2 separate regions of the Homo sapiens genome follow, and region 1 is linked to region 2. Evidence: fine-mapped QTL for protein levels in blood plasma. A gene starts in region 2. The other region holds a variant in brackets. All regions are shown on one strand. Distances are between the middles of the regions.

Region 1 (11,456 bases), 15 kb before region 2:
CTCAATTGAACACCTGCTATTTGTCGGGCCCTGTTCTGGGCAGAGGGATGTAGTGGTAAATGGGGAGCCCACTATTCCAGTGGAGGGAGACACACAGTAAAGTTGTTGGCCAATAAAGAGCACAGATAAAGCCAAATGCCAATAAGTGCCTGGAAGAAAATGAGATAGAGTGCGCTGTGGGCAATGGGGCTGGGTGGGGTGGAGGTGACCAGTTAGGGTACATGAGAAGGGCCTCTTTGAGGAGGTAACATTTGAGCTGAGCCCCGAATGTTGGGGAGGGAAGCCCCTGAGGATGACACTTGGCACAAAGCTGAGGAGACCCTAAGCCTCAGGCGGGAACTTGGGGTGGAAGACTTGGGGGCTTTTCTAATCCTAAGGGTCTGCGGTGGAAAATGAATGCATAAAGAGCACATGGAGAGCACCTGCACAGCACTCAGGGAACTGGGAGGTTTTTCCCCCGCTCCAAAAATGATTAGGCAGTTCTAAGAAAAAGGCTGAGCACTTCCAACAGCCTTTTTGTTTTCTTTTCAAATTTGGGGAAAGTCGGGAAACAGAGGCCTGCATTAAGAAGGGTGGAACACATGGGTCTCAGTCTCAGTTCCAGTCCCGGAGCCAGACATCCTGGGGTAGGTCCCCAGCCCTCCCAGTGCCCCTCCCTCCGCCTTGGTAAGGTGGAGAATTGCAGCCTTCAGAGTTAGGGGCCCTGACAGCTCTCCATAGGTGGAGGCCTCAGGCAGGCAGGATGCTGGGTGGGGTAGGCAAGAAAGGGCCCAGCAGAGAGGCCGCATGGCAAAACTATCCTCCATGTGACCCCCTATGCCCGCTTCACCCCCCACCTGACATCCCCCACCAGAAGCAAAGCGATGCTGTGGGAAAGGAAGCAGAGCCTCATGGATGGGCTGCACAGGAGAGTGCTCGCATTGGCTGGGTACCCCACAGGTTCTGGGAGGGGACTTAGCGAGGTGACTCAGCCAGAGGGTGGCAGAGCTGGAACCAACCAGTGCTCTCTTGGACCCCGCCTGGGTCTGGGTCTTCCACCTCCCCTGATGTCTCTCCTTTTTTTTTTTTTTTTTTTTTTTTTGAGACAGAGTTTCGCTCTTATTGCCCAGGCTGGAGTGCAACGGCACAATCTCGGCTCACCACAACCTCCACCTCCTGGGTTCAAGCGATTCTCCTGCTTCAGCCTCCAGAATAGCTGGGATTACAGGCATGCACCACCATGCCTGGCTAATTTTGTTATTTTTTGTAGAGACAAGGTTTCTCCATGTTGGTCAGGCTGGTCTCGAACTCTTGACCTTAGGTGATCTGCCTGCCTCGGCCTCCCAAAGTGCTGGGATTACAAGCATGAGCCACCCTGTCCGACCATCTCCCCTTTTATACTTTATCACACCCTTGAGGTCAGCGGAGCACATACTCTGCTCTCTGACCCTCCATCTCCCCTGCCCACACCTAGTTTTTCTAGGTGTTTCCCCGTTGTATTGGTTGAAATAAGTTTCACTAATTGGTAACCTCCAGAGGGAAGGGAAGGGAGGGCAGGGGAAGGAGTGAAGTGCAGAGGGGTAGCAGAGTGGAACTGGCCTCTAAGTCAGATCTGAATTTGCATGCCCTCAATAGTCAAGCTGTGAAAACTAATGACCCTCTCTAGGACTGGTTTCAAGTCTTCCTCCAGGAAGATACCATTCCTAGCTGTTAAAGTTGTTATAAGGACCAAATGAGGTGACATTTCCAGGCTTACTCATGCCATGACCAGGGCAAGACCCTGGAACTCAGCTTCCTCTTCTATAAATAGAGAATCAGCACCCAAGTCACAGGGTCATGGAGGGAATAAACTGGAGAGCGTTTGGTATGTGCTCAGTGTCTGCTCCATTGTGCGCACTCAGCCTATGGTCATTTTTAATTTTTAAATCCAGCCCCAGGGTGAGGCTTCCCTTGTACATTTGCCAGCTGGTCATTTACTGTGCTCCCAGTCCCCACCTCTGGCCACACCCAGCTCTCACAGCCTTCTCTCCCCACCCGCAGAAGGAGAATAAGAATGAAAAGGTCATAGAACACATCATGGAGGACCTGGACACAAATGCAGACAAGCAGCTGAGCTTCGAGGAGTTCATCATGCTGATGGCGAGGCTAACCTGGGCCTCCCACGAGAAGATGCACGAGGGTGACGAGGGCCCTGGCCACCACCATAAGCCAGGCCTCGGGGAGGGCACCCCCTAAGACCACAGTGGCCAAGATCACAGTGGCCACGGCCACGGCCACAGTCATGGTGGCCACGGCCACAGCCACTAATCAGGAGGCCAGGCCACCCTGCCTCTACCCAACCAGGGCCCCGGGGCCTGTTATGTCAAACTGTCTTGGCTGTGGGGCTAGGGGCTGGGGCCAAATAAAGTCTCTTCCTCCAAGTCAGTGCTCTGTGTGCTTCTTCCACCTCTTCTCCAACCCTGCCTTCCCAGGGCTCTGGGCATTAGACAGCCCTGTCCTTATCTGTGACTCAGCCCCCTCATTCAGTATTAACAAAATGAGAAGCAGCAAAACATGGGTCTGTGCTGGGCCCCTTGGGCTCACCTCCCTGACCATGTCCTCACCTCTGACTTCAGGCCCCACTGTTCAGATCCCAGGCTCCCTGCCCCATCTCAGACACCCTGTCCAGCCTGTCCAGCCTGACAAATGGCCCTTGTCACTGTACACTGTAGAAAGCAAAAAGGCATATCTCTACCCCTTGATATGCCTGCTACCTCACCAACCAGCCCCAAGCCTGTCTTCACCCATCACTGTCTACACAGCCCTCTCTCTCTCCTAACAGAATTCTATTCCTCTGAAAGTCTTCCAGAAATGGACCTAGATAGTGCCATGTCTGGGGAGGAATACTGGCACCCAGGCAGTGGAAACAAGGACAGATCCGGTGTGTTTACTCTCACACTTTTTCTGGATCCAAGAGAGCAATTGGATCTCTCTTAACAGACCTGCCACCCTAATCAACGGGAGTGCTCACACAAGTGGGAGTCTGAGAGCTTAGCCCTATGCCCACCCTGGTCTCAACAGAATGGCAGAGTGAAGAAATGAGCTCCAGTCCGGGCTCTGCAGCTAAAAGACTCCGTGACTACCAGGAGGAGTCTGTGCTCTGGGTCCAGAGAGCCTGGGGGTCTGAAGATTCTGATTTTAAGCTTTGAGGGCCAGCTGTCCTTTCTGGTGGGTAGCTGAGAGCTGGGCCCAGCACAAGTATCTGCTTCTCTCTGCAAAGCCTACTACCAGGCCTGGCCCTAGCTGCCTCAGGGCTACTGCTGCAGCTCCCCCTTCAAGCTGCCCCAGATCCAAGTGCTCAGTTCAGGGACTCCTCTGCCATCTTCCTGCCCTTTGGCTATAAAGTCCCTTTCCTAGGTTATAACCAGTGGGGTTTGGCCTTCCAAAAACCAGAGTCCAGATCAAGGTCCTCTGACCCCTGTCCTTTCAGCAGAAAGAAGACTCACAGAATTAGGATCTGGGGAAGCTGGGAAGACTAGCAGTCACCTACTCTCCCTTTTCATAAGTGAAGAAACCGAGGTGTAATATGGAGAAGAGACTAGTCCAAAGTCACACAAATGACAGAGTTGCTCAAAATAATGCAGTACGAAAAGTAGCTTGAATCATATCTGCCCCACTGGCTGCACCTCCCCAGCCCCTTCCCCAGTGCAGAGCAGGAAGATATAGAGCTGCCAGTGTTGGATTTCAGCCCTCCCCTCACAGCCTGGCTATGGTTGTGCCCCCAACCTGCCTGTTGCAGACTCCTGCTTTAAGGGCCTGGGGGCTCCGCTCTGGGTGCAGGGTTTTAAGGGCTCCCACTCGAGGGTATGAGGATGTTTCCAGGAACTGTCTCAGGCTGAGAGCTTAGGCAGCAGAGTCTAGAAGCCCTCCTCAGTCCCTTCTGTGCCTGACTTGGAGACCTGACAGCTGGGGACACTCATTTTCTGACAGCCCTTCTGCTCCCATGCTCACATCCAGGGAGGAGTCACTGTCTTCACTCCCTTCTGAACACAGCTTGGTAATGAGGAGAGAGAAGCATCCTGGGGATTGGAGGGCCTTAGACCAGATGCTTCCAGTAGGGTGGTAAGTGCTCCCCCTAGGCCCTCTGCCCACCACTACTTATCACAATGTGCCTAAATATGTTTATGACTCTGCCTACCCCTCCAGACTGATAACTCCAAGAGAGCAAAGTCCATCTGTTTTTTTTTTCTGATTTATTCTCAGCACCTAGAGTAGTGGCTGCTACATAGAAGGTTCTCAGCAAATATTGCCTGTATAATGGCCTAGGTTTCTCACGTGTTCTATGCTCTCTTCTCAAGGGATGATGTGGAGAAAAAAAAGCAAGAGGAGATCAAAACCTGCAAATGGAAGGCTTCTGCATTAGCATTACAGAATCTCAAACCTGAAGGTAAGGAGCAGCAAGTTGATGGAATCGGAGGGCCCCTCCACCCCCTGTTCAATCAGACCAATTTGATTTGAAGGAAGAGATTTGTCTTGAAAAAAGTGTGAAAACTATGGACTTAATCCAATCTGCCCCACCCACACTCTAGAGTGATTCTTGCCAACATCCCTGCCAAGTGACTGAACCAACCCTGCCTGAATTCCTCCAGGAAAGGAGAGTTTCCCCCTTTGGGAGTGACACTTGGAATGTCCCTCATTATACTGAGCTGAAATCCATCTCCTCATGCCCACCCAGCATTAGTCCTACTTTTCCTCCCCTTTGAGGACACAGAACAAATCTAACCCCTTATCATCCATCCTCCCATCCACATGTTTATTCCTCCACTTCTTCAAAACGCCTTCCCTAAATTACATCCAGGCTTTCTCCAGCCTCTTCACCTTTGCACCAAAAATGCTGTGCTCCATCCTGGTGTCTCTTGTAAGTCCCTTAGGATCCATCAAGCCTTGGAACAAGTGTTACTGCTTCCTCACCATCCACCCTTCTCAAGAAGATAGGGACTTCCTCCTCCAGGCCCACAGAACTCTGACAATTCCACCATTGCACTTCAAATACTGAATGGCAAATACTCATTTGCCAAGACTATGAACCCCTGAAAGCAGGGACTATAGCTGATTTTCCCCCACATTCAAGATCCCAGCATGGACCATCCACTTGTTCATCCACAAAGTGAAGATAGGATGGTTCTAGAGCAGAAATGGGTGCTTTGCTCGAATGTGGGTGTGAGGTAGGAGTGGCTCTCAGGAACTGGGGTTGGGGGTGCCAGCTGTCTGGAGACCTGGGGCTGGCAGAGAGCAGAGCAGCTGAGTGGCAGGATGACCCAGAGACCTCCTCAGGTAACAAGGATTCTTCCATTTACCTTGTCTCTAGTAACTCAGTCTGCATGTAGGCAATTGTTTCAGACCCTGGGGGAAGGTCTGACAACAAGCCACTTGCACCCTGCGGAATTTTCTTTAAACGTAGTTGAACAGAACTCATCAAGGTGACTTAACCTCTTCATTCCCATTAGCCTCTTTCATTTCAAAAAAAAAAAAAAAAAAAAAAACCTCATTCTGCTGAGTAGAGCAGAGTGGGCTTCTTTTCTCAGATAGAGAGAGCAAGCATGTCCATGTCCATGTCAAGGTTAAGATTCCCACTCCAAGTGGAAATCAGTAGCTATCTCTGTGATTAATGAGTCCTTTGGGGAAACATGACCTTTGGGGACTTTCCCAGCACCATGGTGACTAAAGAATCAGAGACAACCTGTCTTCAGATGACTATCCAACAATTCCTGCAACAATGAGTTGCCCTCCAGGCTGGTGTTAGCAGTGGAACCTGAACTGCTAGATGCCTTCCTGGGAGGAATGAGGAAGGATCAGAAGTAGTCTAAGCTGCTAAACTCTTCCCAGACACTTCACAGTGCTCTGAATGTGGTCTGGGGCCTGGGTGGTGGTGGGATGGCTCCAGAACTTGGGGGAGAAATGAATTCACTTGTCCACTCACTTGTATGTCCCTTCATTCACTCAACAGACATTAACTGCAGACTTACTATGTGTCAGGCACAGTATAATGCTGAGGGGCCTTCATGATAAATAAAGCTTGTCCATGTTGTCAAAGAGTTCTCGGGCCTGCAGGGAGACAAGACAGCTCCTCAAATTAATCTGATGTGGAAAATGAGAGGCCAGGGAGGTCCAGCTAAAAGATTTCGGTGGGATGTAGCTCGGTGGGACTTTGAGGTGGGAATGATGCCCTTCACTGGGGCCATCTCCATGGAGGGGTAAGTATCAGTGTGACATCAAGGCTGGTACCTGGAGACATCCCGGGATAAACATGAAGGTGCTTCAGGAGACCATGTATGCAAAGGCCTGGAAATGGGCAGGCGTGGGGTTTGAGGGCGAATGAGGAGCACTGGGGGCGTGGCAGGGAGAGGTAAGAGAGACAGATGAGAACAGGATAGGTACCAGGCCAAGGAACTCACACTCCATTCAGCAGAACAGGGGCAGAGCCCCGAAGGCTTCAGGGAGGGCAATGATATAATCACATTTGCATTTCATAGAAGTTTCTCTATCTGTGTTTTATGGGATGGGTTTGGGGTGGGAATGAGACCCCAGGCACATGGCCTGTGGGGAGTCTGTTGCAAGAGCCCAGGTGAGCACTTAAGAGTCCAAGCGGTGCTTCTCAGAAAAAGTAAAGCTAGAGCCTCAAACTACCCCAAGCTTCACCTCAATTAGGAGAGGTGTGACTGCAACATGATAAATAAGATCATTTCATGCTGTTTGCCAAGACCTTTCCAGGAAGGAAGATCTCAGCTTTCACCAGCCCGGTGAGCCAACCTTACACAACCCTGATGCAGCCCTGCCCTGAAGTAAGCTCCATAATCCAACCCCAATGCACTGCCCCCTCTTCC[G/A]GCAGTTGCTTAAAACATATATTTTAGAAAGCCCCGTGTCATGGATTTTGACACTCCAATTACCAAAGTGACAGCAGGACTGAAACAACTGGTTTCTCAAGTCCTATTGCCCCTTGGGGCTCTGACCTGAAACAGTTTCTCTATCCTAAGACGACAATCAGTCCCTGGATGATTAGATCACCCCTGTCTTCAGAGATCCACTCCCAGACACAGGAGACAGGGAAAGGGAGCCCCTGAGCGACAGCCAGCTGGCCTCCATCCTGAGTGTCCCACGGAATGCAGAGTCCCAACTAAACACAGAGCACCGCTATTGGTGCTGGCTCAAAACAACTACATCTAGGCTTTCCTTTTCTGCATGAGTTCTCCCACTCTTGCCCACGTACCCAAAATTGCTGCATGCAGACTGTACAGTGAGGAAGGGGTTTGTTGCCAAGACCCGAGGTGAAGAGGAAGAGGAGGGTGGCCACCAGCAGGGGCGGCAGGGGCAGCAGGATTCCAGCATGCAGCCCGCACCTTCAGCATCCCCCGCCTTGACTTGGAGTCTGATCCTCCCTCCTCTCCCCTGCCTCTCCCCCAACCTTTTCCCTCTTGATTTGCCCCCTCTCTTTCTCTCTTTACCTTTTCTACATCCTCTCCCTGAGCTTTTTCTCACTTACTGCCTTCTGCCCTCCTGTCCTCTGTGGTAAAATGCAGTTCTATGTGGCTGAGTGCTTTCAGGGAAGCAACTAGGGGTCATATCTAACCTTTGTGAAGTAACTACGGGTCATATCTAACCAGAAATGGCTCCCTCAAAACACAAGATGTCCCAGTTTCGAGTCTACTCCTCATAATGAAAGGAGACAATCACAAGGGAAAATTGTTGAAGGTCTTGGGGAATCAAGTCTGGAAAAGGTAAGCAAGGGAGCCATGACAGCTGCCTTCAAATATCACCAGGGTCCAGGGAGAGGAGCCCACCCCCGGGGGCAAGGCCTCCAAACCCGCTGTGGTGTGGCTCATTTGCTGCCAGGCCCTCCCACTCTCCCAGCACTGCCTCAAGCATCGCCCTCGCATTCTACTCCAGGTGTTCATTCCCTCTGGTAGGAAACAGCTCCATGCAAAGAAGCCAACATTCATCAGCTATTCAGTCTGCAAATACTCATTGAGTGAGAACTAAATGCAGAGCACTGTTATAGGTGCTGGGTCAACAAAACTGCGTCTAGGGGAGAGTCAGACAAGAGGCAAGTCAAGAAATAGATAGCCCAGATCATTTTAGATGGTGATGAGTTGCACAAAGAAAATAAAGGGGACATGCTAACAGGACTGCTTTGTGGGCCGGCAGCCAGGCAAGGAAGCAACACTGGAAATGAGGCCTGGATGACAAGAAGCCATCTCAACGAAGATTTCACCCCAAACACATTGGAGAGCCTTTGGAGGGTTTTAATCAGGCAGGTGATGTGATATGATGTATCTGGAGGAGAATATTCGGCAGCTGTGTGGAGGGTAGCCTGGAGAACCCCAGAGTAGAAGCATGAGGACCAGTTAGGAGGCTGATGAGCCTGGTCTTATGTCAAATAGTGTGCTAGATTCCCTGCCTTCACAGAGCCCTCAGTCCAGTGGGGGCACAATTACCAGATATTTTCTCTATAATACAATGTTGTGGGCAAAAGACAAGCAAAGGCAGATGATAAGCACAAGATGCCCAGAGAGTACAGAAGGCACTTTTTGCCGTCTTATTGGCTGTGGTGTGGGGGAGGGGGTAGAGGGGAGCCGGGGGGCAGGGGTAGAGGGAAGGAGAGAGAAGGAAAGCTTGCTTGGACTAATGCCCAAGCTGAGTTTTCAGAGGGCAAGAATTGCACTTCCATGTGCCCAGTGCTGTGTTAGGCAATAAAAGAAATCAGAGAAACATAGGAAGTAAGGGCTCTTGCCCTCCAGATTTTTAGTTTGCTTTATCTTAAAACTTGAAAGGCTTCTTGTGTTGGCCAAGTCAAAATGATGAGACCTAGCCATTCTCACATCAGGGGCTTCTGATAGTCATTTTGTTGAGCCCAGATCCTTCTCCTGAGCTCCAAGAGCCTGATGCACAGGCTGGCATGGCTTGGCTTGTGGTGTACTGGAAGCCTGCCTGAAATATCCTCCTGAGGGCAAAGTATTGCACATATAGCACCCAAAAGAGTGTTATTGGTGTCCTTTATCACTCAGTAATGCCTTTGCCCAGACAGCTTTGTCAGGCTCATCATTCCAGCAGCAGCCAGTGAGCAGAAGAGGGAGGTCAGCCCCAAATTGGAAGGGGCCTAAAGTCTACTCTTGATGGAAATACATGAGGAAGATATGAACAGGTGAGCTCCCTGGAGGATGTGACGGTTGAGTCAGGCCATGGTGTATAAGCAGGTGTTCTAGAGCCAGAGAAGGGCCCAGGTAGCCTAGTGTCTGCAACAGAGCAGACACAAAAAAATGTTTGTGAATGAAGGGATGAAAAGGCACTTCAGACAAAGAGAACAAGAGGACAGCAGGAGCAAAACCCAAGAAGTTTCAAAGCCGTGGAGAAACTAGAGACTGTTCTAGAGTGGCTGGAGAATAGGGCCTCTGGGGGTGGACAGATGGTGACAGTGAGACAGGGCCTCCAGAAGCAACAGGGCCAATCCCTGGGCTCTGTGGATCTAACAGTGCTTGTGTTCATTTGCTTGTTCCACGACACCAGCCACAGTCACAGGGTCTAGTCTCTGTGTATTCATGAAGGGACTGGAGATCACTTGTGCAAACAGCACACTATATACATGAAAAAACTGAGGCTCAGAGAAGGGAAGCCATTCGCCCAAACTCACAGAGCCAAGCAGTTGAGCTGGGAGTCTAACCAAGCTCATTTGATTCCAAGTCAAGGGCCCTTGTCATTGTCCTTAGGTGCCGCTGACTGATGGATTTTGACCAAGGTTAGCAGCCCTTAAAATTTTTCTAGCCATGATTTAAGTTCAATTTGTGGTTCAGTGGGCTATTTGGAAACAAAATTACAGCTGGTGAATGTTTTCACAATAGCAAATGTGCTGGACTTTTGCTCTCATCGGTTAGTTGTTGGTTTTTTTGTTGTTTTTTTTTTTAACAGATTCTAATACTACTATATATATCAGAAGTGGTCCCAAATCAAGGTAAGTGCATCAAGGGAGTGGCCTAGTTTGCAGAACAGCTTGGTCTAGTTCAAAGGCCTTTAGAGGAAGATATTGCATAACTTCCCTTGGTTCCTTATCTTACACTGGTCAACTTTAACTATCCAAGCCACCCCTAAATATAACCTCAGTCTGCTTTGGTTTAAAATAATCTATACCTATTGTGCTGTGGCAGAGGGTGGGTCAGCTACAATCGTTACCTCCTGTCTAAATTATTATCTTACTGTTATTGCTAATGTTTGTTGAGTGCTTACTCTGCATCAGATACTGTGCCAAGTGCTTTCCATGTGCTATGAGATGACCTAATCTTGGCCAGTCGCATGGCTTACGCTTGTAATCCCAGCACTTTGGGAGGCCGAGGCAGGCAGATCACGAGGTCAGGAGATCGAGACCATCCTGGCTAACGCGGTGAAACCCCGTCTCTACTAAAAATACAAAAAAATTAGCCTGGTGTGGTGGCGGGCACCTGTAAACCCATCTACTCGGGAGGCTGAGACAGGAGAATGGCGTGAATCCGGGAGGCGGAGCTTGCAGTGAGCCAAGATCGCGCCACTGCACTCCAGCCTGGGAGACAGAGCAAGACTCCATCTCAAAAAATAAAAAAATAAAAAAAGGAAAAAAAGGAGATGACCTAATCCTCTCACCAACTCTGGGAGAGGGGTGCTGTGGTTATCCCCATGCTACTGATGGGGAAATTGAGGTTTAAAGATTCTAAGTAACTTGTTCAAGGTCTCACAGTTAGTAAGTGGCAATGCTAGGATTTGAATACAGAAGCATAACTTCTAGCCTCACACTCTCGACTGCTACTCTTTAGCACCAAGGGACATCCTCCTTCCTACCCTCTCACTAAGTGATGTTCTCCTTCTAGACCCTGCACCAAGTTCCCCTCTATCCAACTGAGGTCTCTCAGAGCACTAACACTGGGTGACACCTGAGTATTCACCTAGTCTAAAACTTTCCAAAATAGATGTTTAAAATTCCTTTGAATTCTTCAAAAATAAAGAAAACACAGACCCAGAGAGGCAAAGTGATTTGGCCAAGGTCATGCAGTGAGGGAAGGCTTTCCCCAAATGCTCTCACATTCTCATTCACATTTGGTGATAGAAGCCTTCCAGGCTTGGGCCATTCCAGGACTCCCTTCCCTGGGTCACACATTCCTTCCTTTTCTGCCAATCCCACTTCACCCCCATCTTCAGGCTCTCCCCTCAACCCCATCTACAGGCTTCTACTTTCTCGCACACTTTCCACACAACTGCAATTGTTTCCTTTGATGGGGGTGGTCAGCAAAGCTTCACCCCAAGACCATGTGCCCAGGACTCATCATTTGTCACTTGTCCTGAATCCCAGCTTCCCATACACTGTCTCCACATGGCTTCACAGTAAATAAGCCGAAAGTCAAACCCACTCTCCTGCAGTAAAAAGCCCCCTTTCCCACTTTTCCTCACATCTGTCTTGCCTGACCTCCAGCAGGGTATCT
Region 2 (10,948 bases):
ACCTTGAGTTCAGAACCTCCACACAAGACCCTTTCTTAGGCCTCTTATCCCTCAGAGCTCGGGTTGTGAAGGCCCAGGCACATTAACTCATTAGCCAACACTGTGTTGGAGAATCCAGTGTAACAAAACAGAGAACACAATGGTCATGAACCACCCTGGAATTAACAAGGCTTGACCTGGAAGGTACTCTTCTGCTCACTCATTCAACCCCTCCCGTGCCCTGCCTCTCTCCATTTTACATATGAGGAAACAGACTCAGAGAGAGGAACTGAGTAGAGCCTTAAGTGAGTTATTGAGAGAGGGAAGCAAAGGACCTCTCCCACAGCAGCGGGGAGAGCATCCTTTGGGAGCTCAAACTGGGGCCAACCCCACCCCAGTCCTTGTCCCACCATCCTCTGCCAGGCCTTGCCACTCCCCTCAGTGCAGGGTCATGGGCAAGTTTGCAGTGAGAGGGGCATCACCTACCTTGATGGTGTTTGCAAGCTCCTTTGTAAGCAGCTGCTTCAGCTCACCCTTAGAGAGGGTGTCAAAATGCCCCTTCCGAACTGAGTATTGGTGGAAGATATTGACAATTCCCTCCAGATGCTCTTCAAGTTTTGTCATCTTCCCAGCCTAATGTTAACCTTCAAGGAAACAAGGGAAGTCTAGAGGCAGTTTCTCCCCCACCCCTCAACCTCCACTCTCCCCTCTCTTTCTGAATCAAGGGCCTAAAGAAAACATAACATCCTCCATATCTATTTTGTGGTCTCTGCTCTGTTTGATCCATGGTGAACTTCTCATGTGTGGATAGGATGGGGAGGAGAAAACATATAATACTGTCTAACGTCTAAAAAAATCAGCCTCAGTTGCCCATGTTCCATACCACCTCATCCACCGGGGTGCATAACTTGGAGGGTATTGCTTACTCAAGGTCCCTTGGGAAGGGTTCTGTGATTGGCCAGGCTGTTTGCTTTCCTCAGGTGATGGCACTATGGCCACATATCCCCCACAAATGGTCCATAACCCACCCCTGCTTAGCCATTCTTTTTTTGTTGTTGTTGTTTTGGGTTTTTTGTTTGTTTGTTTGTTTGTTTTTGAGACGGAGTCTCACTCTGCCGCCCAGGCTGGAGTGCAGTAGGGCGATCTCGGCTCACTGCAAGTTCTGCCTCCCGGGTTCACGCCATTCTCCTGCCCCAGCCTCCCGAGTAGCTGGGACTACAGGCACCCGCCACCACGCCCGGCTAATTTTTTGTATTTTTTTAGTAGAGACGGGGTTTCACCATGTTAGCCAGGATGGTCTCGATCTCCTCACCTCATGATCCGCCCGCCTCGGCCTCCCAAAGTGCTGGGATTACAGGCGTGAGCCACCGTACCCGGCCTGCTTAGCCATTCTTAAATCATGGGACTGAGTCTACATAGCACAACAAGAGCTGATCTACTTGGGTCCAAAATGCAATATCACCCCAGAGGTGCTCAGGCAAGTGGAGGGTTGTGGTTTCCAACACCTTGTGATTTCAAAGTGGTCACCTGCAGTCACTACCCTGTGGACCACCTAAGAACCCATCCAAGGAAAATGCACTTACCCCTCAATGCACAGGAATGTGGAGCTACAGCAAAAAGCCAGCAGTGGTGAAGGGCACTGAGCCAAGGAAGGTTTTATAATCAGTTCAGGCTTCATCTTAGCCCTTGGGTGAAGAAATCTCTGATTCATCTTGAGGCAATTTATGTAAAGTACTCTGTTGCTCAATAGAAGCTTCAAACCTGTGGCTTAGGCTGCCACAGGAGCAGCCCAGATTGTACCCAGACTGAATTTTGCCCTCCTGCTCAGCCTGAAACAAAATCACCCCCACTCCACCCACCCGCACAGGGGTGCCCTGAACCTTTTTTAGCCCTGAGCCAGGGCCCAGGTTTCAGGTTTAGCTCTACTCCACTGCTCCCTAATAAAAGACTAGGAGAACAAACTTTACAGCCTGAGTGTCTTGTTTTAACAGATGAGGTTACCAGCTCTTCAGTTTTGGCAAATGGAATATCAACTTAAAGATCTTTATGCAGCTAAGGAGATAGGTAGGGAGACCTCCTCCTAAGTCGTTCTGGGATGCAAAGTTCATCACTGGAGCAGAGGATCAGTTTTCAAAATAGATTCCAAGGTTTTCAAAAAAGGAGAGAGCAATGCTACTATGCCTCCCCTTTGCTTTCCCAACTTTCTAACTTGGCTGTTACAAAGACCTAGAAAGCTGGAGTAGGGTAATCATTGTGTGTGAAGAAAGTTCACCATGCCTAGGTTACTTTACCATGTTCATGAGTTCAGTAAGACAGAACATTCACACGAGTTTTAGTAAAGCAACTTTATTACTCACAGAGAGGCAGCAAGGGACAACAGATGCCCAGGATTCATGGAGAGGTGGTCCTTCAAGATTCAGAAACCTGCCCAAAATGGATTAAGTCTCATCTGTACATTCCCCATGTCGCACCAAAGCTAAGGGACATCCAAAAGCACTCTGCCCTTGGTTTATGCCTAGAGGTCAATAAGATTGCTGAGCAATCAAGGCCATGCCAGAACCTGTGCTGCCATCTACCCCACAACACAGATATCCCCCTTAGCAAAGCTAGTTCATTTCATGTGCCCACCGACCTCTCTGGATCTGGAGGCAAAAGTCTGTCTCTCCGATCCATGTGTCACCTTGACTGACACAATCTCAGTGCAACATTGTTAAGCCATTGACAGTATTTGTTTCACTAGGCCCAGGAGGACACCACCAGAGCAGGATGATCAGGCTTGTGTAAATCAATGACAATGACCAAGGTGAATCTCAATCATTTTAGGAGGTTTATTTGGCCAAAGTTAAGGATGCGTGCCCAGAGGTAGGTCTACGTCTTTCTCCAAAGATGATTTTGAGGGCTTCAATATTTGAAGGAGAAACAGTGGATATTGGGGGAAGAGGAAGAAATATTTTTTAAATGTGTCAGTAGATAAGAGACAAGTGATTGCATCCTTTTGAGTCTTTGATCAATCTTTCACTGAATACACAATTTTCATGTGGGAGCGGAGTAGAGGAAATAGTCACTTATGCCTTCATCTGGCTCAGTGAATCTGCATTTTTACATAAGATAACAAAAATAGGGGAGAGGAAGCAATCAGATATGGATTTGTCTTGGGTGAGCAGAGGGATGACTTTATGTTCTGCCCTTTGTCCCACACCTGTGAAGATAAGCTGTCAATTACACTGCCAGGGTGAAATTCAATAGAACTGTTTTAGGGTAAAGATCTTGAGGCTCACAAGGAATTTCCTTGTGGGCAAGTTGTGAGATTGGTGTATGGCTTTTTATCTTTGTAGCTATCTTATTTAGAAACCAACCTGGGTGGGGGCAGGCTTGCATGACCCATTTCCCAGCTTGACTTTTCCCTCTGGCTTAGTAAGTTTGGGATCCTGAGATGTTTTTTTTTTTTCACATCTGCCTGGAGAAGGGACTAGCCCAGGATCCCAGCCATCCAGGCAAGAGGTTGCTAAATGCGGATCACGAGGTCAGGAGATCGAGACCATCCTGGCTAAGATGGTGAAACCCCATCTCTACTAAAAATACAAAAAATTAGCCAGGCATGGTGGCAGGCACCTGTAGTCCCAGATACTCAGGAGGCTGAGGCAGGAGAATGGCGTGAACCCACAAGGCGGAGCTTGCAGTGAACCGAGATCGCGCCACTGCACTCCAGCCTGGGCAACAGAGTGAGACTCCCTCTCAAAAAAAAAAAATAGAAATCAAAAAAGCAGGAACACAGCCTCACATACAAATATTAACCTCCAATGTGAATGGCCTAAACACTGCACTTAAAACACATACCTTGGCAAATTCGATTTAAAAACAAGACCCATCCTTCTGCTGTCTTCAAGCACCTGTCTCATGTGTAATGACACCTGTAGATTCAAAGTAAAGGGATGGAGAAAGATCTATCATGCAAACAGAAAACAAAAAAGAGCAGAGGTTGCTATTCTTGAATCAGATCCGATAGACTGTAAGCCAACAACAGTAAAAAAGGATAAAGAAGGGCATTACATAGTGATAAAGGGTTCGATTTAACAAGAAAATTTAACCATCCTAAATAAATACACACCCAACACTGGAGCACCCAGATTTATAAAATAAGTACTTCTGCATCTAAGAAAAGATTTTGGCAGCCACACAATAATAGCAGGGGACAACACCCCACTGACATCAGTAGACAAATCATCAAGGCAGAAAACTAACAAAGAAATTATGGACTTAAATTTGACACTTGACCAATTAGACTTAATAGACATCTATAGAACAATGCACCCAACAACCACAGAATATATATTATTTTCATCTGCACATGGAACATACTCTAAGATCAACCACATGCTCAGTCATAAGGCAAATCTCAATAAATTCAAAAAAATCAAAATCATACCAAGAATCTTGGACCGCAGTGGAATAAAAATAGAAATCAATACCAAGAGGAACTCTCAAAACCACACAAATAAATGGAAACTAAACAACTTGTTCCTGACTTTTGGTTAAACAACAAAATTAAGGCAGAAATCAAAAAATTCTTTGAAACATACAAAAATAGAGACACAACACAACATATCAAAACATCTGGAATGTAGCAAAAGTAGTGTTAAGAGGGAATTTTTTTTTTCATCTTGGATGTGGGCGAATCTCATTTTAATTGCAAAAGACTTCATTCACAGCACATTCAATAATGGACCAACAGGAGAGTTGCTGGCTTTTGAACATATGAATATATAAAAATACCTTGCAACTTAGGTAGTCAAGATAATAAGTGCATAAAAGGAAAGCAATCCTCATTTTTCTGAAAACTTTTACATTTTAAAAGGTGACTAGGCATACTTGGAAGTTCAAAGCTGTAGAATGTACCTTGCAGGGGAAGAAGGAGGAAAATCCTTTCCATGTTTTTAGGTAAATATATAACAAATATATCCCAATTCCACTTGATAAAGTCAGTTGCATGACTTCCTTGAACCAGGCTAGGGCAGAACACTCAGTAAAAGCAGGCCCTGGGTGGGGATGTGAATCCTGAAGAGGAGCACCAGATCCCACGCAGCACTAAACACATCAGTTTTACCCTCTAACATAGATGAGGCACGCCGCCCCATGACCCTGGACAGGGGATGCAGGAGAACAGACATCAGGTGGTTACTGCTCCCACTGCCTGGTGCTTTCCAATGGTTTTAAGTCAGGCCATGGAGAAAATCCTTTACCACCAAACACAAACTGCCATTGAACTTGTCATAAAGGATGTTATGGGGGAAATTCTTGAAACACATACATAAGGACTTCTATTTACCTAATTAGAAAAATGATTACAGAATTGGCATTCCTGTTTTCGTAAGATTTTGTTCTCTACATTGGAAAGGTTTAAGAAAAGTTGTCTATTTTTGGTTTTATTTTACACTTTCAAAAGAGAGGGAACAGAGAGAAACGTATGACTAACTGCCCAACTTTGGGGTCCCACAGGTATGAAAGCAGACTTCTCTGACTCTAGGTCCATCTAGATTTGGGGGAAGTTTACATTCCTAGGGAGGGTTAGTGAAGCCTGTTACACCCCCAATCCTACAGAAAGTATTCTACAGCCAATCTATCACAGTGTTCTAACAAAGCATATGTTGAGGAAAACTACAGGTTTCAACCTAACATCTAAATCTTAAAAAGTAGCACTTCGGCAACAAACAAGCGCAGAGAGCTCACCTGAAAAGTGAAATAACATGACTATTGCTCAGATATCTGAAAAGTCAAGCTGCTGCCCCCAGCTCCGCCCACTCAAAGGCTTAGGCAGACACCTAGGGTGGCGGCGGCTCCTTGGCAGCACCTAGGGTGGCGGCGGCTCCTTGGCAGCACCATTCACAGTGGTATCATCATACCGGGGTAGGAGCACCTTAGTGTCATTGCTGGTAACATAAACCAGGACATCGGAGGAGTTCCTGCCGTTCATCTATCTGCAGCAGTTCCAAACACAGCTAATCAAGTAACCCTTAAAAGTTAAGATAATGCTAATAAACAGAAGAATAATAAGGACCAAACAGGTGGATTCACTGACATGACATCATCTCTGTAGGGAAAATTAGGAGGCAGTTGTCGTATGTATTCCTGAATGGAGTTTGGATAAACAAGCACAGTGATTGCAACCAAGGTGTTCAGAGCAAAATCAAAGATCTGGTAACAGGGCCAGGTGCGGTGGCTCACGCTTGTAATCCCAGCACTTTGGGAGGCCGAAGGGGGTGGATCAGGAGGTCAGGAGATGGAGACCACGGTGAAACCCCGTCTCTACTAAAAATACAAAAAATTAGCCGGGCGTGGTGGCTGGCGCCTGTAGTCCCAGTTACTCGGAGAGGCTGAGGCAGGAGAATGGCGTGAACCCGGGAGGTGGAGCTTGCAATGAACTGAGATCGCACCACTGCACTCCAGCCCGGGCGACAGAGCGAGACTCCGTCTCGGAAAAAAAAAAAAATCTGGTAACAGAAGAATGGGATGATCCAGAATGCGTGTTGCCTGTATGCTTCGTAATTAGCCTTAATTACGTAATTAGCCTTAATTCTCATGATATCAGTATCATGAGAAGAGAAATCGCAATGGCAATGCACGTATTGGCGTCATCCATGAACTCAAAATCACCTCCCAGTTCAGAACTTGAAAAGTGATACTGATCCGGATCAGCCAGGGCACTCAACAAAATCAGGAGTACCACGGCGTTGATGATCAGGTACCAGACACCTAACAGGATGGTGCTGGTGCGGACATGGAGGCACAGGCAGCAGCTGTTGGAGTAGAACCGCATCCAGGGTGCGACCAGGGCGTGACCATCGTCATTGCTCCTGGAGCAGAGGCGCGAGGACGAGCCCAAGTTTCCAGGAGCGTTGACCTCCTCGCCCAGACTCCGCCACGCGGCTGCTGCAGACTCCTCGGCTGCTCCGGCTTCCGGCCCGCTCACCGGTGTGCCCGCCAGCCTCGCTCCTCTATCCTCCCAAGAGGGAATTTTATAGCGCTAAATGCCTATATCAAGCGGGGTGGGAGGAGGGGGGAGAGATAGCATTAGGAGATATACCTAATGTAAATGACGAGTTAATGGGTGCAGCACACCAACATGGCACATGTATACATATGTAACAAACCTGCACATTGTGCACATGTACCCTAGAACTTAAAGTATAATAAAAAATATATATATATAAAGAAGATATTAATAGAAAGATCTCAAATTAACAACCCAACCTCCACCTAAAGTAATTAGAAAAACAAGAACAACTAAGCTCAAAGCTAGCAGAAGAAAAGAAGTAACTAAAATAAGAGCAGAACTAAGTGAATTGAGACCCAAAAAGCCATACAAAGGATCAGTGAAAGGAAAACTTGCTTTTTTGAAAGGATAAACAAGATTGATAGACCATTAGCTAGATTAACAAAGAAAACGAGAGAAGATCGAAATAAACACAATCAGAAATGACAAAGGTGACATTACAACCGATTCCACAGAAATACAAGAGATCCTCAGAGATATGAACCTCTCTATGAGTACAAACTAGAAAATCTAGAGGAAATCAATACATTCCTGGAAACACAACCTCCCAAGACTGAGTCAAGAAGAAATAGAATTTCTGAACAGACCAATAACAAGTAATGAAAATAAATCAGTAATAAAACACCTACCAACAATAGCAACAACAAAAAACCCTGTATCAGACGGATTCATAGTCAAATTCTACTAGATCTACAAAGAAGACCTGGTATCAATCCTAAAGAAACTATTACAAAAAATCAAGGAGGGACTCCTCCCTAACTCATTCTATGAAACCAATATCCTCATGACACCAAAATTTGGCAAAGGCACAACAAAAAAAGAAAACTACAGACCAATATCCCTGATGAGCATAGACATAAAACTCTTCAACAAAATACTAGAAAACCAAATACAGCAGCATATCAAAAAGTTGATTTCCCAAATAAGTGGGCTTTATTCCTGGAATGCAGGGATGGTTCAACATATGCAAATAAATACATGTGATTCACCACATAAACAGAATTAAAAACAAAAACTATATGATCATCTCAATCAATGCAGAAAAGCATTCAATAAAAATTCAACATTTCTTCATGATGAAAGCTCTCAATAAAATAGACATCAAAGAAACATACCTCAAAATAATAAGAGCCATCTATGACAAACCCACAGTTGACATCATACTGAATAAGCATAAGTTAGGTGCATTCTGCCTAAGAACTGGAACAAGACAAGGATGTCTACTCTCACTATTCCTATTCAACATAGTACTGAAAGTCCTAGCCAGAGCAATTAGACATGAGAAAGAGATAAAAGGAACCCAAATTGAAAAAGAGCGAATTACTTCTTTTCACTGACAATATGATTCTATGTCCAGAAAACTCTAAAGATTCTTCCAAAAGACTCCTAGACCTGATAAACAACTTCAGCAAATCTCAGAAAACAAAATCAACATAGAAAAATCAGTAGCATTTCTATACACCAATAATATTCAAGCTGAGAACCAAATCAAAGATGCAATTCCATTTACAACAGCCACACACAAAAAATAAAATACCTAAGAAAATATCTAACCAGCAAAGTGAAAGACCTCTACAAAAAGAACTACAAAACACTGCTACAAGAAATCATAGATGACACAAACAAATGAAAAAGCATGCCATGCTCATGGATTGGAAGAATTGATATAGTTAATAAGTCCACATTGCCCAAAGCAATCTATAGATTCAATGCTATTCCTATCAAATTACCAAGGTCATTTTTCACACAACTTTACAAAACTCGTCTAAAATTCATATAGAAGCAAAAAGAGCACAAATAGCCAAAGCAATCTTAAGCAAAAAAGAATATAACCAGAGGTACCACATTACCCAATTTCAAACTACACTACAAGTCTACAGTAACCAAAACAGCATGGTATTGGTACAAAAATAGACACATAGACCAATGGAACAGCATGGAGACCACTGAAATAAAACCACATACCTACAACCAACTGACCTTGAACAAGGCTGGCAAAAATAAACAATGGGGAAAGGAAATCTTATTCAATAAATGGTGCTGGGGAAACTGGCTAACCATATGCAGAAGAATGAAACTGGACCCTTACCTCTCACCACATACAAAAATTAACTCAAGATGGATTAAAGACTTAAATGTTAAGACCTTAAACTATTAAAATCCTGGAAGAAAACCTAGGAAATACTCTTCTAGACATGTTCTAGGCAAAGAATTTATGGTTAAGTCCTCAAACGCAATGCAACAAAAACGAAAACTGATATGGGACCTAATTAAACTAAAAAGCTTCCACGCAGTGAAAGAAACTAATAACAGAGTAAACAGACAATCTACAGAATGGGAGGCAATATTCACAAACTATGCATCTGACAAAGGGCTAATACCCAGAATCTATAAGGAACTCAAACAACTTAACAAGAAGAAAACAAATAACCCCATTAAAAAGTGGGCATAGAACATGAACAGACATTTCTCAAAAAGAAACACAAGTAGCCAACAAACATGCAAAAACTAATCATCAGAGAGATGTGAATCAAAACCACAAGAAATATCATCTCACATCAGTCAGGATGACTATTATTTAAAAGTCAAAAAAATAACAGTTGTTGGCAAGGTTGGAGAGAAAAAGGAATGATTATATACTGTTGGTAGAATGCAAATTAGTTCAGCATTTTGGAGATTTCTCAAAGAACTAAAAATAGAATTGCCATTCAACCCATCAATCCCGTTACTGAGTATATACCCAAAGGAAAAGACACCTGCACTAGTATGTTTATCAAAGCACTATTCACATTAGCAAAGACATGGAATCTACCCAGGTACCTATCAATGGTGGGTTGGATAAAGAAAATGTAGTACATATATGTCATATATGTCAATACTATGAAGCATAAAAAAGAACACTATCATGTCCTTTGCAGCAACATGGATGCACCTGGAGGCCATTACGCTAAGTGAATTAATGTAGAAACAGAAAACCAAATACCAGAATTTCTCACTTATATGTGAGAGCTAAACACTGAGTACACACAGACAAAAAGATGGGAGTGGTAGACACTGGGGATTCCAAAAGGAGGGAGGGCAGGAGGGGCACCAGGGTTGAAAAGTTACCTAACAGGTACTATGTTCACTATTTGGGCAATGAGATCATTCGCAGCCCAAGCCTCAGCATCATGCAATATACCCATGTAACAAACCTGCACATGTATATCCTGAATCTAAAATAATTTTTTTTTTTTACAAAAAGGCCAAAGAAGGATCCTTCAGATGGCCTCACTGTTTGAAACCAACGGGCTGGGTCTGCCTGTGGATCCCTTCCCCTGTGTCTGTACAATCCCTGAGGTGTTTACTCAGGTACAGCAGGAGGTGTTGGCAACAACCAAAGGCCACTCTGCTCTGCCAGCAGATGATCAGAGGCTGTTCAGGTGTTCATCACCAGCTTAGTTAATGCATTCAGTGAGTCTCACTGGTCCTAAATAGTCCAGGTGGTAGCATTAGTTGTCACTGACGTAGTCAATGACAAGTTGGGTACCATTTTTCCCAGGGCATGTACACCTATGCCAAGTAGGAGGACACAGACAGCAAAATGGAATCAGCTATCAGAATGCCTTCCTGGCAGAGTATGTCAGGCAACCTTGCAATGTCAGAAGCCCTTCCAGCTTACGGTGTCATTTTGCACAAACACTTGAGGACCCCAAATTCCAAAACAGCATGCTCTATCTAAGGGTGACAGGTATTCTGCAGTATATCCCACAAAGGAATATACTAGCCAGGGGAGCACGTGTAACTCCGGTCAGGGAACTGTCACTATAAAAGTCTCTAGTTGAAGTGTACAAAGCCTGTGTCAGATTTAGCCATGAGTTACATGGCAAGGTAAACTGCATGATGAGCCTGCTTTCCCATACCATTGACCATGTTTAA

Evidence for each region. PIP is the chance, under the fine-mapping model, that this variant and not a neighbour inherited with it causes the effect. Sun 2018 read protein levels with aptamers (SomaScan).
Region 1: its variant is fine-mapped to the plasma level of the S100A12 protein (Sun 2018, PIP 0.95).

What each region holds. Positions count from the first base shown.
Region 1 is chr1:153,358,625-153,370,080 of GRCh38, forward strand. S100A9 (S100 calcium binding protein A9) reads left to right here. Exons shown (of 3, transcript NM_002965.4): 3 at 2,020-2,399. The coding sequence ends at 2,214. Among named protein-coding and RNA genes, the nearest start is that of S100A9, 6.5 kb to the left of the region's middle. The variant G/A (reference allele first, on the strand shown) is at 6,843.
Region 2 is chr1:153,373,990-153,384,937 of GRCh38, forward strand. It overlaps S100A12 (S100 calcium binding protein A12), which reads right to left and starts at 1,632. Exons shown (of 3, transcript NM_005621.2): 1 at 1,563-1,632; 2 at 466-623. The coding sequence starts at 603. It also overlaps the pseudogene LAPTM4BP1. RefSeq lists a silencer at 6,395-6,565.